Homo sapiens: one gene and its partner. The protein of the gene in region 1 interacts with the protein of each later gene in a pairwise test. Each region holds a gene or a part of one and is shown on either strand. Other genes may lie near its edges.

Region 1 (3,816 bases):
CCCCATGGGCAGTGGCGGGAGCTGGCAGGACCCTGCTGAGTTGGGTCCACTGCAGGGCTCACAATGGCCTTTCTCCACACCCCTGGCAGCTGAGGCCCACCTCAGAGATGCCCAACAGCTGTGTCCTTTTTGCCCAGCCTCAGGGCCTGGTTCTGAGGGCACAGCTGCCTAGACTAAGTATGTACTAAGCGAGGCCCTCCCACCCGTGAGTGCAGGTTCCAGCCTAGAAGGGGTACCTCTTCTGGAGAGGGAATTTGAGGAGGGGGAACTCAGGCAGGAGACATCGAGCCCGGGGGCACCAAGCACTTCTCGCTATGCTCCCCTCTAGCCTTGGACTATTTGGAGGTGGAGGCACTTGGCAGAGAACCCACAGGGCAGCTACAGAGGGGAAAGACTGAGGCTTGGTCTCAGGGAACACATAGCTGGATGAAAGAACAAGGCATTGGGCCGGGCACAGTGGCTCACACCCGTAATCCTAGCACACTGGGAGGCGGAGGCAGGCAGATCACCTGAGGTCAGGAGTTCAAGACCAGTCTGACCAAGATGGTGAAACCCCATCTCTACTAAAAATACAAAACTTAGCTGGGTGTGGTGGCGGGGTCCTGTAATCCCAGCTACTCAGGAGGCTGAGGCAGGAGAATCGCTTGAACCCAGGAGGTGGAGGTTGCAGTGAGCTGAGATTGTACCACTGCACTACAGACTGGGTGACAGAGCGAGACTCCGTCTCAAAAAAAAAAAAAAAAAAAAAGAAAAACAAAAAAGAACAAGGCATTATCTATCAAGCAGGTGATATACCATCACAGCTAAGAACAGAGATGATGGTGATGATCATGACGGCCATGATTGACCTGGACTGCCTAGGTCTGAATCCCAGCTCTGTCACTTGCTGGATGTGTGACTTTGAGCAAGCGATTTAACTTCCCCGTTGCCTCATCTGTAAATTGGGGATGATCATATCTACCTCATTTAGCTTTTTTGAGGAAAAATGTTTTTAAAAGTGCCTAGTTCATAACAAACTGTATATGTGAGCGGTTGTGATGGGTGAAGGAAGCTGTGGGCCTGGGGTCTCCCAGATTTCTTAGAGAAGCTTCGTGGAGAATTGGGTCTCCTAGACATCAGTGAGACTGGGGCCTGGGGCAGTGGGTCTCCAATTTCCAGCCTTCTCACCGTCATGTAATCTTTTCCTCCCAGACAAATTTTTGCAGCCTGGAATGAGTGTATGGGAAAGAGCCCAAGGCAGGCCCCTCTGCCCCACCCTCCTTTGACCCTCGCCCTTCAGCTTACAAGGAGCCCTTGGCCCCTCAGCCTGGGACACACCCCACCAGCTAGGGGCACCTGCATAAATCTTTGGGCATCACTGCATCTCTGTTCAGGGTCTGAGCTCTGGGGGTGGGAGAGAGAGAACAAGGAAAGCCGTCCCCTCTCTTATGTGTGGGCTCAAAGAGGAGGCAGTGCCCTTCCTCCCTCCTGGGAGCCCAGCATTGGTCAACCAGGACCCAGCTCTGGCTGATAGGCACCAGATTCCCCTGCCCTCCATGGAGTGGTACTTAGTGTGAAAGGTGGTGGCAGAGAGAAACTGAAGCACTGAGTAATGACCAGTGTGGTGGGCACAGCACTTTGAGATCCAGCATCTGTCCTGGGTTGCCTCTTTGCCTTTGTGAGTCTGGTGATCAGGATCCCCTCTCCAAACCCCTTTTATTTAGCCCTGCCCCTCAAGGTGAAGGAAGGACAATGGGAGGATACCCTGTAGGGGTGACGGGAAGCCTTTGGAGTGGGAACCAATCTCAACTCTAGTTCTCGGCTGGGCACAGTGGCTCATGCCTGTAATCTCAATATTTTGGGAGGCCAAGGCGGGAGGATCACTTGAGGCCAGTAGTTCATGATCAGCCTGGTCAACATAGTGAGACCCCATCTCTAAAAACAACTTTAAAAAGTTAGCCAGGTGTGGTGGCGCATGCCTGTGTTACCAGCTACTTGGGAGGCTGAGGCCGGAGGATCGCTTAAGCCTGGAAGGTCGAGGCTGCGGTGAGCTGTGATTGTGCCACTGCACTCTAGCCTGAACAACAGAGTGAGACCCCCCACACACACATCCTCTCAAAACAGACAGAAAACAAAACAAAAAACCCAACTCTAGTTCTCATGGCTGCAAAGGTGTCTAGGGGACTTTGGAGAACTGTTGTGTCTCTTGGGGAGGGAGGCAAGCATGACCGTGGTGGGAAGATCACTGGCTGGGAGTTGGGAGGCCTGGCTGTTGACATTCACTAGTCGTATGACTTTGGGCCTGGGTTTTCATTATCTAGAGACAATGGTTCCTGTCTCACTCAGGTTGAGGGCAAATAACACAAGGTGGGATGACCCCTGTGTTCAATCCATGTTGCATCCTGGCATGGTGAGCAATGCCTGTGGATTCTCCTTTTTTCCCAGGGCCTGGCACATGCCAGGGTGGGGCATACACATGCTGCCTGGAACCAGAGACAGTTCTCAGTCTCTCACTGAAGTATCTGGGGCTGGTGTGTGGTGGGGGCACATGTGGTTCCACCTTGGTGTCACTTGGCAGGCCAAAGCTGGGGTCATAGGGACCTCCCTCCGGTATGCCATTGCGTGAGGTGGTCCAGAGGGAGGGTCAGAAGTTTGCTGGGTAGACAAGGGAAGCAAGATGGGTGTTACTGGTGCCCAGGAAATACTATCCTTGCTTCGCTGTTTTGGGGGTGGGCATTAAAGGTTGATACCAAAGCCTCAGCCATGCCCCTCAGCAGTGGCCAAGAGCAGAATGATTGGACCAAGCCCCTGGCCCACCTCCTCCTCCTCCTCTTTTCCTCTTCTAAAGAAGAGATCGGCTCTTGGCTCCCAGAGCCCCAGCTGCCTGTTTCTTTTTCTCTTTTACCAGGCATGGGGGTGGGGAAACAGGGGAACCGAGGCTTTGGTGTCTTTCGGCATTTTTGTACACATCAGTGAGTGGGTGTGTTGTGCACGCATCCATGTGAGAGTGTTTTTGTGCATGTGTGGGCTGGGGAGGGCTCTGAATATCTCCTGGAACGGTACCCAGAGCCCTGTGGCTCTGCGCATGCGGGGTGAGTGTGTGTGTCTGCACGTGTCCGTGTGTGTGCCGGAGACTCAGCTGCATTCACGCGCGCGCTCTCTCCCTCCCTCTCTCCCTCCCTCTCTCTCTCCCTCCCTCCCTTCCTCTTCCCTCTCCCTCTCTCTCTCCCCCTCCCCCTCTCTGTCTCTCCCTCCTTCTCTCCCTCCCTCTCTCTCTCTCACACACACACTCTCAATCTTTCTCTCTTCCCTCCCCCTTCCTCCCTCCTTCCTATTCCCTCCCTCCTCCCTTTCTGTCCCTGTCTCTCTGTCTCTGTCTCTGTCTCTCTCTCTCTGCCTCTGCCAGTTCTGCTTGGTTAGGGGCTAGCTCCAGCCTCTGGGGTGCCTGGGAGAACATCCCTCCCTTTCTTTCCCCCTCCACCATTCCCTCCCCTCCTAGGCCATGCTCTTCAGGGCTTGCAGGCAACTTCTTCTACTGCCTTAGATGAGGGAGTGAGGAGGGAGGACCCCAAGCCTTGTGCCCATGGTGCCATCTGCAGCAAGTGCCTTGGCCCCGTGACATTCATGCCTCCAGCATTCAGCTGCCCCAGCTCCCAGCTCCAATTACCCGCTGGCTGCTGGGGGAGGGTGGGGAGAATGTGCCGTGCCCAGCTTGGGGGTGCTCCTGCTTCTGCTTTCTTGGCTACTTGGATCTCCTGCCTCCATTCCTGAGGGGAATTGGGCAGGGGGGGCGTGAAGTTCTGTGGGCTGATAAGGAGGGGCTGAGTTCTCCAGCAT
Region 2 (3,816 bases), on another chromosome or scaffold:
AATATTGTTGTTGCAGTTATTTGTTCTGACAGTTTGTATAAGAATTCTTGTCCTAGGCCAGGCATGGTGGCTCACGCCTGTAATCCCAGCACTTTGGGAGGCCGAGGCAGGTGGATCACTTGAGGTCAGGAGTTCGAAGCCAGCCTGGCCAACATGGTGAAACCCCATCTCTACTAAAAATAGAAAAATTAGCTGGGCATGGTGGCGGGTGCCTGTAGTCCCAGCTACTCGGGAGGCTGAGACAGGAGAATCGCTTGAACCTGGGAGGCAGAGGTTGCAATGAGCCAAGATTGTGCCACTGCACTCCAGCCTGGGCAACAGAGCAAGGCTCCATCTCAAAAAAAAAAAAAAAGAAAAAGAAAAAGAAAAGAATTCTTGTCCTGCCAATGTCTTTACAACAAAAAGCCTACAAATAGTCCAATTTTTAAAAAGCCAAATGTAGCATTTTTTAATGTTAATATGAAATGAGAATATCTTCCATTTAGGACAATAAGAACTTTACTGTAGAAGTTTTATACTTCAGAACATAGAAATTCACTTGTAATATGGCAGTATCTCTATAACAACTAAATATGTTCAGATAAACTTTTGTCCTCCTGAGGGTTTTTTTGTTTGGGTCTGTTTTAAGTGCGCTTTAGGAAATGTATAATACCAACCACTGCAGCTACTACTCTGTATAACTTAAGCCTTGTGTGAGACCATTATTTTAGTTCTGTTGAAACAGAACAGATACAATGTTACTATAGCATTTCTGTGACTGAGACCATCATCTTACAGTAAAAAAAATCCCCTGCTTCCCCTCACCAGAGAGAAAGATGCTGACTTGGAAACTTCTCTTTAGCTATGAAGTTTAGATCTCCAGAAAGACTAGCCCTTACGAATGATGAAGGTAAAGGGATACAGGGGAATCCTTCTGAAGCTAGTTTTTTTCTCTCCATATTCTGACCCCTGCTCTCCCTCTCCTTAAGCCATATGTATTTAAAGAAATTCAAACCAAGATTGAATAGCTTTTTTATCTCCTTGAACACAGAAAACAACTTTTGTACACCAAAGAGAAAAACACTAAACTAAAAATGTTTAGTTTAAGCATAGTGGTGGCTCACGCCTATAGTCCCAGCTACTTGGGAAGCTGAGGTGGGAGGATCACTTGTACTCAGGAGTTTGAGGCAAGCCTGGACAATATAGCAAGACCCCAATCTCTTAAAATAAAAAAAAGTAAATTCTGTGCATCATTTTGAGAAACTTACCCAATGGGCATTTGTAGAAGAAACCCACACATTCAAACTTGGAAGGTAATATGGGAATCACAGTGCTAACAGGGGGTCCTGTGAATCAGCTGGCATGATAACTGCTACTTACCTGAACATAGAGTATACCAGAAATTCACACTGAGAATTTATCAACCACCACAATCCATTCATGGCCAAGAAGAAAACAGAATTCCATAGCCCCTAATGTTATGACTGATCACTCCATTGAGAAAGCAAATGAAGAGAGACAGCAGTTGAGAGTAGACAGGTTAGAGATTGTGGACCTGTTAACAATCATACTTGGAAATTTATTAGCCATTGGCATTGTTGCTGGAATCATCTTTAAAGTTATAAGGAAAATGACATGCAGACTAAAGAATTGTACTCTTCTGCCATACCTTTTGTCCTATTTTAAGCTGTTCTTGTGCTCAATTGAAAAGGTAGAAATGTTGCCCATATGAATGCTTAGCCAGGGATCACCAGATAGTTATTAAGGATCTTCAGATAGTAATGAATACTTCCAAAATGAAAGGCAGACTGAAACAAACTAAAAAGAAACTTGGAAAAAATGGAAACAACCAAAGCAGAAGAAAATTCACCGCCCCCAGCCCCCTTTCCAAATATTCAGAGATCTAAGAGATTATAGTGCATCTATAGAATAAGCACACCATACTTTTTTAAAAGGGGAACAATAAAATAAGAGACACTTGAACTATTAAAAATAGAAGATAGCCAAAAGCAAACAAAAACAGTGAAAGGAATGGGAAAGTAAGCTGCAAAACTCTTTCATTAACTAAAATCAAAAGATGAAGAGATGGCTAGGCACAGTGGTACATACCTGTGGTCCCAGCTACGTGCGAGGCTGAGGCAGGAGAATCTCTTGAGCCCAGCAGTTCAAGACCAGCCTGGATAACATTGTGAAACCCTGTCTCAATAAAAAGATAGATGGACTATAGTAGAGAAAAGATAAAATTAACAGATTGATCCAGGATTCTAGAATGTACCAACAGAAAACAAGGAAAATGGAGGGTAGGAAATCTCAAAATAGTGAAGCACTGCTAGATGTGAATCGTCAGACTAAAAGTGCCATGAAGAGTACAATTATGAGGCCGGGCGCAGTAGCTCATGCCTGTAATCCCAGCACTTTGGGAGGCCGAGGTGGGTGGATCACCCAAGGTTGGGAGTTTGAGACCAGCCTGGCCAATATGGAGAAACACTATCTCTACTAAAAATGCAAAATTAGTTGGGTTTGGTGGCACATGCCTGTAATCCCAGCTACTCAGGAGGCTGAGGCAGGAGAATCGCTTGAACCCGGGATGTGGAGGTTGCAGTGAGCTGGAGATCACACCATTGCACTCCAGCCTGGGCAACAAATGTGAAATTCCGTCTAAAAAAAAAAAGGCCAGGCACGGTGGCTCACGCCTGCAATCCCAGCACTTTGGGAGGCTGAGGCAGGCAGATCACGAGGTGAGGAGATAGAGACCATCCTGGCTAACACAGTGAAACCCCGTCTCTGTTGAAAATACAAAAAAAATTAGCTAGGCGTGGTGGCGGGCACCTGTAGTTCCAGCTACTCGGGAGACTGAGGCAGGAGAATGGCATGAACCTGGGAGGTAGAGCTTGCAGTGAGCCAAGATCGCACCACTGCACTCCAGCCTGGGTGACAGAGCGAGACTCCGTCTCAAAAAATAAAAAAAAAAATGAGTACAATTATGAAAATTACAAAGAAAACTTTCAAAAAAAAATTCTAAAGGCTCTGCATGAAAAAAAAAAACCTGTGCCAAGACACACTGTTGTGAAATTTCAGAATACGAAGGGGTAAGAAAAATATTTTATTTGCACAGAGAAGAAAAGCAGCATACATAGAAAAGAAAATAAAGTATTAGGGAAAAAGAATGGCATGAGCCTTCTCAACAGCAGCACTGGAATCTGGAAGTGTTCACATTGTGAGGGAAAATGATGCTCAACCTAGAATTCTTTGCCTGTTCATATTTTCAGTTTGCTCTGAGGGTAACTACAATTTATTACATCAGAAATTTACATCTAGGCCAGGCAGGGCAGCTCACTCCTGTAATCCCAGCACTTTGGGAGGCCAAGGCGGGTGGATCACTTGAGCTCAGGAGTTTGAGACCCACTTGGGCAATGTGGTGAAACCCTGTCTCTACCAAAAATACAAAAATTAGCCGGGCATGGTATTGAGTGCGTGTTTTCCCAGCTACTCAGGAGGCTGAGTTGGCAGGATCACTGGAACCTGGGAATTTGAGGCTGCAAGGAGGTGATATCGTGCCACATCACTCCAGCCTGGGTGACAGAGCAAGACACTAGCTAAAAAAAAAAGAAAAAAAGAAATCAAGAAATTAGCCAGACTTGGTAGTGCATGCCTGTAGTCCCAGCTGCTTGGGAGGCTGAAGTGGGAGGATTGCTTGAGCCTGGTTGTCAAGGCTGCAGTGAGCCACGTTTGTGCCACTGCATTCCAGCCTGGGTAACAGGCTGGGGTTCACCTTTAATTGGGCTCTGCAGGCGCTGCCGCACTCTCCACCTGGTGTGTATAGGGCATTTGGGGCCT

The links.
Region 2: the proteins of THRA (region 1) and CDK7 interact in a two-hybrid assay, tested with the Homo sapiens proteins (one study listed by BioGRID).

What each region holds. Positions count from the first base shown.
Region 1 is NC_000017.11:40,065,937-40,069,752, forward strand, and holds part of THRA (thyroid hormone receptor alpha), read left to right. Parts: intron 1-3,816.
Region 2 is NC_000005.10:69,262,332-69,266,147, forward strand, and holds part of CDK7 (cyclin-dependent kinase 7), read left to right. Parts: intron 1-3,816. UniProt on the Homo sapiens protein: Serine/threonine kinase involved in cell cycle control and in RNA polymerase II-mediated RNA transcription. Cyclin-dependent kinases (CDKs) are activated by the binding to a cyclin and mediate the progression through the cell cycle.